2 separate regions of the Homo sapiens genome follow, and region 1 is linked to region 2. A link means that fine-mapping ties the variant in region 2 to the expression of a gene that starts in the linked region. Tissue or cell type: whole blood. Region 2 holds a variant in brackets; the other region holds the start of a gene. All regions are shown on one strand. Distances are between the middles of the regions.

Region 1 (4,143 bases), 59 kb before region 2:
ACCCTGTCTCAATAAATACATAAAAAGGCCAGGCGCCGTGGCTCACACCTGTAATCCCAGAACTTTGGAAGGCCGAGGTGAGTGGATCACGAGTTCAGGAGTTTGAGACCAGCCTGTCCAAGATGGTGAAACCCCGTATTTTCTACTGAATTTTGTATTTTCTACTGAAAATACAAAAATTAGCTGGGCACGGTGGCGGGCGCCTGTAATCCCAGCTACTCGGGAGGCTGAGGCAGGAGAATCGGTTGAACCCAGGAGGCGGAAGTTGCAGTGAGCGGAGATGGTGCCACTGCACTCTAGTCTGGGCGACAGAGCAAGACTCAGTCTCAAAAAAATAAACAAATAAATAAAAATAAGTAAATAAATAAATAAAAACTACATTGGTTCGGTGCAGAAAGACCGGAAACTTGAAGTGGGGGCTTCCACATTATAGGCAGATTTAAACATTTTCTGATTGGCAATGAGTTGAAATAGTTATTATCAATAGGCCTGGTGCGGTGGCACACGCCTGTAATCCAAGCATTTTGGGAGGCCGAGGCAAGTGGATTACTTGAGCTCAGGAGTTTGAGATGAGAGTGGACAACATGGCGAAACCCTGTGTCTACAAAAAAAATGGAAAAATTAGCCAGGCATGGTGGTGCCCGCCTGTAGTCCCAGTTACTCAGGAGGCTAAGGTAGGAGGATAGCTTGAGCCTGAAAGACAGAGGTTGCAGCGAACCAAGAACTCATCACTGGACTCCAGCCTGGGCAACAGAGTTAGACCCTGTCTCAAAAAAAAAAAAGTTATTATCAATAGAAATGAATGTCTGGGTTATGATAAGGGATTGTGGACACCAAAGTTTTATCACGCACGTGAAGCCTCCAAGTGGCAGGTGGGCTCCAGAGAGAACAGATTGTAAATGTTTCTTACCAGTCTTAAGGTCTGTTGTGTTGATGTCAATGCTGAAGGATGTAATGAGGCATGTCTCATGTCCTGCTTCCCGTCATGGCCTGAACCAGTCTCTCAGGTTGGTTACATTTTAGACTGCCCTGGCCTAGGAGGAAGTCCGTTCAGATGGTTTGGTGTTGGGGGGGGGGTGGGGGCTTAGTTTTTTGTTTTGTTTTGTTTTGTTTTTTTGGCTTACAGAGTTTAGACTGAAGCCTTTGACTCTGTATCTGGCATTTCCTTAGACCACATGCTGTAGGGCTGGGCTCATGAAGGTTCTCACCTACACACCAGGTTGCTCCCTTGAGAAGGGGGACTTTGCTGGATCCTATAACCTAGCTAGTAGGAAGTAAAGGAGCTTGGGAACCAGACAAGCCTGAGTTTAAATCCTCTTTCCCGCGCCGCCCCACCTCCACTGATAGGTGTGTGACTCCGGGCAAATAAGTGATCGTTTTCTGTGCCTCAGTTTCCTCATCTGAAAAGTGGAGCTAGTAAGAACTCACAGTGGTTGCTACGAGGCTACGGTTAAGGGAAGACTTCTCCTGCACACCTCAAGCACAGTTTCCCTCCCCTTGGCGATATCCAAGAGCACTCACATCCGCCACAGCCCTCTCTGCTCATCGGGCCCTCGGGGTAGAAGTGAGTTAATTCCTGGCTAAATGTTAGTCTCAAACCACCGGGAAAACCACCCAGTTGCCCCAGACAGTGCAGCGGAGGGTGGGTGCGGCTATCAGGTCGACGCTAGAGACGCGGCGAAGGCGGGTGCGGAGGCCTAGCTCCCCCGAGCGCATTCCACCCTCCACAGAACCTCGGCCTGTGACCACGGCCTTTCTCAACACTGCGCCGCCCCCTGGCCGCCCCTCGCCATCCCGCCGCGCTGACGTGAGTGCGCGCGCGTCCGCCGCGCCCGCCCCGGCGCATGCGCGCTCTGCGCTGTCTTCTCCCGGCCTGAGCAGCAGCAGCTGCGGCGGCGGCGGCGTTTGAGTGGAGGAAGATGGCGGCTCCGGGCGGCTCGGGGTCCCGCCAGCTGTGAGGAGCCCCGAGCACGGCTGTCGCGGCCTGAGGCAGAGCGCCTCTGCTCTGGCCCTGTCCCTGGCTCCCTCATTACCGTCGCCAGCGGAGCGAACCCGAGAGCGTGGAGCGGGCTGGGCCAGGTGAGGCCTCTCCTCCTCCCCGGGCCGCAGAGGGGAGCCGGCGCCTTCTGCCCTTTATGCCCGGGACTGGCAAGGGGCAGCGGGCGCCCGGGGTCTGACGCAGGCCCCGTATCCCACGCGGGGGTCGGTCCTGGTTGGGCAGGGTGACTTGCTATCGCCGTCCTCGAGTGAGGCGAGGAGGAGGACAGCTCCTTTCCAGCCAGCCCTTGGGTTGGGAGCGAACCCACCCCCTCTCCTCAGCAGGGTGGTTCTCGTCCCCTCACCCGGGCAGTGAAGGGGTGTGTGGCCCGGGCAAGGATGGCTTTAGGGTGTCAGGTAATCTTTCATCGCTCCTCCGAACATTTCACTCCTTTGCGAGAGAGGAGTCGGGGGTCGGGTGCCCATCAAAATTGGGGCTGCGGCTGGGGGCTAGCATCTCTGAACCTGCAGCTGCAAAGGGATAATTTTGGAATTGGTTTACGTTAAATAAAACACAAAAGGCCTTTCCTATCCCCTAGCTTGTTGAGTGTTCCCTTAGAGAAATGGGAACTGCGGATCTCCTTGCTTGAGACAGCAATCCATGCTGTGACTGTGGAAGGCTTCTCTTGGCGAGAATTGTGTGTGCAAAGGGAACGGTGGAGGGTGGGAACGAATTTGTAAGCGAAGAGAAAACGATTGTGAGATCTTGATGGTCGCTGCAGAGTAACTTCAGCGCTGAGTTCGTTTGAAACCTTCGGTTTGTTAAGATTCAGAATAACCAATTGCTTTGTCTGTTAAATCTCCCGATTTCTGTTAGGAAAATAAAAGCCTCATTTCTTAATTGCCAGAGTCTGGATTTTTCTGTGGTGGGATTCTGATCGATCTAGATGAAGATTCTGACACATTACCAGTTTTACTTGCTGGCAGTTGCTGGCCCCGACGTTGAAACTATGTTGTTCCTTTTTGAGAACAACTTTTATTGCTGTTTAAATGCTAATTGGGAGACTTCGATTGTGTTTCTGTCATGTAGGGAAGTCGGTTTGAAGCCTTGTGGTCTCTTTCTTGAGGAATGATGGCTTCACTGAACTTGTGCTATGCAGAATTGTTGAGGCGATTGCTTTTGCTTGGACACACCAAAATATCTTTTGTAACAAATTGGCTTTACTTCTGCTTAAGAATGATGACATCATGGATTTAAAGAGGCAAGGAAAATTTGGGGGAAGTACCATCATTTAGAATTGAATATTTAGAATTAAGTCTGTATATCTTATGGCCATTAGTGATGCTGTGTTAAATTGCTAACTTTGAGTGTATTCACGTGTGTAATCTGATTGGGTGTCTTTTCTATTGTATGTTGTCATTTTATACCCAGTAACTGTTTGCTTTTGACAAGCCAGTATAAATAGATGATTCAATCTACATTGATCCATAGGCATGTTGCGTATCTTAAAAAGCTTTTCATTGTTAAAATGACAACTGTTTAGGTTATTATTTGACCATTTTCTTTCTTTCTTTCTTTCTTTCTTTCTTTCTTTCTTTTTTTTTTTTTTTTTGCAGTTTCTCACTCTGTCATCCAGGCTGGAGTGCAGTAGCACAGTCTCGGCTCTCTGCAATCTCCATCCCCTGGGTTTAAGCGATTCTCCTGCCTCAGCTTCCTGAGTAGCTGGGATTACAGGTGTGCGCCACCACGCCCGCTAATTTTTTTTTTTTTTTTTTTTTTTTTGTAATTTTAGTAGAGACGGGGTTTCACCGATGTTGCCCAGGCTGATCTCAAACTCCTGGTCTCAAGCGATACCCTGCCCCACCCCAGGCTTGAGCCACCGTGCCCAGCCTCCTTTTCTATTTTTAAATCAAAGACTTTTCCATAGAAATTTGTCGATTTTCTTAGTGTCTTTGCTAAAGATGTAAATCTGAACCAGCAGCTTCTCTGTGGTAGAAAATTGGAGAGCTACTTTGCATATCAATTTGCTAATAAAGAGTCATGAAATTAATGCAGTAAAACATCCTGGTGGCTCATCATTATGCTTCTTGGCATAATATGTTGCACTGTTATGCTAAATCATCATCAGGTATTGATGCAACTTCATGACATCCATGACATCATTT
Region 2 (4,347 bases):
TGCACACCTGTAATCCCAGCTACTTGGGAGGCTGAGGCAGGAGAATCGCTTGCACCTGGGAGGCAGATGTTGCAGTGAGCCGAGATCATGCCACTGCACTCCAGCCTGGCTGACAGAGGGAGACTCCATCTCAAAAAAAGAAAGAAAGAAAAAAAAAAGATTCATTTATTGATTTGTGCTTCAGGTTTAATTTGAAAACAAAAACAATAGGAGAATTGGAGGAAAGGAATGGGAGGACAGAGTACATGTGTTGGCATACCTTTGCTTAGCTCTAGAGGATAATGATGCAGATTTAGATCAATTATGTAGCTGTGCTGAAATTTCCCTCATTTGAGCACCTTTAATGTGAATTATTATGTGTTCTTGCTGGACTTACACTGTTACATCATTGTCAACTTGCTTAGTGTGCTCAGAAATAAAATTTTCATAGCTTTCCTCTGGACCTTGTTTTAAAGGGTAATATATTGATCCACTTGGAGACAAGAGGCTGGTAATAGAAATTTGGTACTTGGTAACAAAATTGCTGAATGTGTGAAATAAGCTTTGAAAAATATATGTTATGGTTAAAATGTTGGAAGGGCCTCAGAATTTTCACAGCAGTTATTTGTGTATTTTCTTTCTAGGTGCATGCTATTATGATGCTAATCAGTCTATGTATGTGTTTGGAGGCTGTACCCAGAGCAGCTGCAATGCTGCTTTCAATGACCTCTGGAGACTTGACCTAAACAGCAAAGAGTGGATCCGACCTTTGGCTTCAGGTAAGAGATGAAATGCTGATCTTTGCCTCCTTACCAGGTGACTCCCTTGGCATGGAAACTCTACCTGATCATTTTTGGTGTTGGTCTCAAGGATGGGTTACTGGGACTCAGGTCCTTAAGTTTAATGTGCCATGTAAATGATAATAGTAATATGCTTGTGTAAGTCTTTGTTTTTTGTTAAATTATACTTTATCATTAGTAATGGTGCCCTGCCAAAATTGCTGTACTGCTGTGTGAATTCATTTGCATGGTTTTCTCAAGTATACTCATACAGGTGTGATACATCATTTGGTAGGAGGTTGAAGTAAGAACAGAAACACAGAGTCGTGAGAACTGTAGTTGACTGACAGAAGCTATTGTCCTAGGGCTAAGGTCTCTGAATATCTGTTGTTGTTGCCAGCTCAGATATTTGGGGAGTGTATGGGACGTGCCTCTGCTAGTTACTCTTAACAACCCAGGGGTGTGGGAAGATTCTACAGTAGGTACATTCCTACCCAGTCCCACTATGCCAGAAATCTGGCAGAAAGAAACTAGATTATTTTCTTATTTTTGACCTAACCTCTCCTGGGGGAAAAAATAAAAACAATGGTTTTTGCACTCATGAGGCAGGGCAATTTGAGGAGGCATAGATTGGAGGGGTTGGTGTGATGGAGAAATAGTGTCCACTGAGTATAAAGTATTCTGCTAGATTTTTTGGCAAGCTTTTCCCAAAACATTCATTTGGCTTTTTAGTATTAGGACTCAGTCTTAGGACTAAGGACATTTGGGTTTCCATTGGGCAAGTTCCTTATTTATTTAGGCCTTGCCTTACTACTTTGATTACCAGATAGGAGGCATCATTGTATATTAGAAAGGGCACTGGACTAAGAGTGAGGGGACATGAGTTTCATTTCCTGGCATAGTCACCAATTCTCCATGTAACTATAAATAAGTTATTGCACTTCTCTGGGAGAAATGTGGAGTAGTACTAAATGACTATTTTTAAATGGGCTAAAAAGGCTAGTTTATGTTTCCCTTTCTATAACCGCTACTGTGAATGTCTAGGCCAGGGACTTAAACCTGTTTATGAGAAGAAGCTGCATTTTGCTTCCCTAAAACTTAAGTTCCTGTTCTTTCC[A/G]CCTACATTAGGCAAATATAGGAGGAGCCTACTGAGTGGATACCATGGGTGGAGCTGGGCTTTGTGTAGATGAAGTTCTTTATTAAAATTATTGGCATTTGGAGGGTAGGAGGGTGGTGGTCCAGTCTGCAGATGGCCACACCAGGAGGAGGAGCTATTATATCCCCTTCTCTTCCACTTCCTGTCACAACCAATAAAGGCCGTTTGTGCCATTCATAAAAAACAAAAACAAAAACAAACCTACAAGCCAGGCCCACTGGCTCACGCCTGTAATCCCAGCACTTTGGGAGGCCAAGGCGGGCGGATCACCTGAGGTCAGGAGTTCGAGACCAGCCTGGCCAACATGATGAAACCCTGTCTCTCCTAAAAATACAAAAATTAGCTGGGCATGGTGATGGGTACCTGTAATCCCACCTACTTGGGAGGCTGAGGCAGGAGAATCTCATGAACCCAGGAGGTGGAGGTTGCACTCCATCCTGGGCAACAGAGCAAGTCTCCACAAAAACTATTGGAATAATAAAGAAATGGTAATCATATAAAAAGTTTGATAGCTAGAACTATTTCAGGGCCCTGAGAATTTTGTACTTTGGAGAATAACCTTTTCTAGCCCTTTATACCATATTGCACTTAGTGCAAATTGATTAATATTTGGAGTTACAGCTTCTGTTTTGTTTTGTATTGTTTTTTGAGACAAGATCTTGCTTTGTCACCCAGGCTGGAGTACAGTAGCACAGTCACAGCTTACTGCAGTCTCAGCTGAGTTATGGATTCTAAAATATAGAAGATCTTCTCAGCTTAAGCATCCTATTGCCACCATGCTTGGGATCTTGTACAGGTCTTATTTCAGAGGAGCTTTGATAGTTTCAGTCACAAAATACTATTACTGTCTTTATTTTGTAAACAAGCTTTATGCCTTTGATAATTTAGCATGGGTGGTGCTCTTTCTTGTTAAAATGGAGCTCTGGTTTGGGGACCTTCATAGCCTCTGCCAACTACTGTGCTTATTTCTCCCTGTAATATGGAGTAAGACTTTTTTTTTTTAAACCATCAAGTTTAAAGACTGCTTTGTGGCTAGGCGAAGTGGCTCACGCCTATAACCCCAGCACTTTAGGAGGCCAAGGCAGAAGGATCCCTTGAGGCCAGGAGTTTGAGACTCACCTGGGCAACATGGTGAGACCCCCATCTCTACAAAAAATAAAAACAAAAAATTAGCCAGGCATGGTGGCATGCCTCCATAGTCCCAGATACTTGGGAGGGTGAGACAGGAGGATTGCTTGAGCCCACAGATATAAGCCCAGACGCCTAGGCGAGAGTGAGACTGTGTCTCAAAAAAAGAAACAAAGAAAGAGAAAGAGAGGAAGGGAAGAAAAGAGGAAGGCAGGAAGGGAGGGAGGGAAGCCAAAGAAAAGGTTATGCTTTGAAATTCCCAAAGTAGAAATATTGGAGAAATAACTGCTTCAATCATTTACATTCTCTATGGAATATGAATTTTTAAAAATAGAGCATTTGGAATATTCCCTTTGACAAAACATACAAACTCCTGAATGTTTAAAGTAATTTTCTAACAAAATGTCTCAAAGAATCTAGTTACTCCCTCATCCTAATCTGCAATTAGAGGCTAGTTTTAGAAGGAGGAAAACCTGAGCTTTTTGAAATGTCTACTTATAAAAAACAATTGTTTAATAAAGAGTCCTGGCTGGGCACAGTGGCTCACTCCTCTAATCCCAGCACTTTAGGAGGCTGAGACAGGAGGATCTCTTGAGGCCAGGAATTTGAGACCAGCCTGGGTAACATAGTGAGACCCTGTCTCTACAAAACAATTAAAAATGAGCCGGGCATGATGGCATGTGCCTGTAGTCCTAGCTACTTGAGAGGTTGAGGTGGGAGGATTGCTTGAGCCCAGGAGTTCAAGGCTACAGTGAGTGATGATTGCTCCACTGCACTCTAGCCTGAGTGAAAGAGGGAGACCCTGTCTCAAAAAATAGCCTGGGCTTGGTGGCTCTCGCTTACAATCCTGGCACTTCGAGAGGCTGAGGTGAGAGGATCACTTGAGGCCAGGAGTTCCAGACGAGCCTGGCCAACATAGCGAAACCCCATCTCTACTAAAAAGACAAAAAATTAGCAGGGCATGGTGGCATGTGCCTGTAACCTCAGCTACTCAGGAGGTTGAAGCATGAGAATCACTTGAGCCCAGGAGGCAGAGGTTGCAGTGAGCCAAGATTGCGCCACAGCACCCCAGCCTGGGTGGCGGAGTGAGACTGTCTCAAAATAAAATAATAAATTAAAAAAAAAAAAGTCCCATGAGATTCTCATTTAGGCAGAAACCCCATGTAAGATGCCCTAAGACAATGTTTCTGTATGCTATCATGAGTCCTAATCAAAATCACTTCCTAACTGAAATGTCAATTAGTCCTTCTGAATAAAACATAGTTGTTTATAAGTCTTGGTGTACCTGACTCACTCATTTTAGTG

The links. PIP is the estimated chance that this variant, and not a neighbour inherited with it, causes the effect.
Region 1: it holds the start of FBXO42, and the variant in region 2 is fine-mapped to the expression of FBXO42 in whole blood (TOPMed, PIP 0.99).

The regions. Positions count from the first base shown.
Region 1 is chr1:16,350,191-16,354,333 of GRCh38, reverse strand. FBXO42 (F-box protein 42) reads left to right here and starts at 1,854. Exons shown (of 10, transcript NM_018994.3): 1 at 1,854-2,079. RefSeq lists an enhancer at 1,815-2,589.
Region 2 is chr1:16,291,194-16,295,540 of GRCh38, reverse strand. FBXO42 (F-box protein 42) reads left to right here. Exons shown (of 10, transcript NM_018994.3): 4 at 624-758. Among named protein-coding and RNA genes, the nearest start is that of CPLANE2, 56 kb to the right of the region's middle. The variant A/G (reference allele first, on the strand shown) is at 1,876.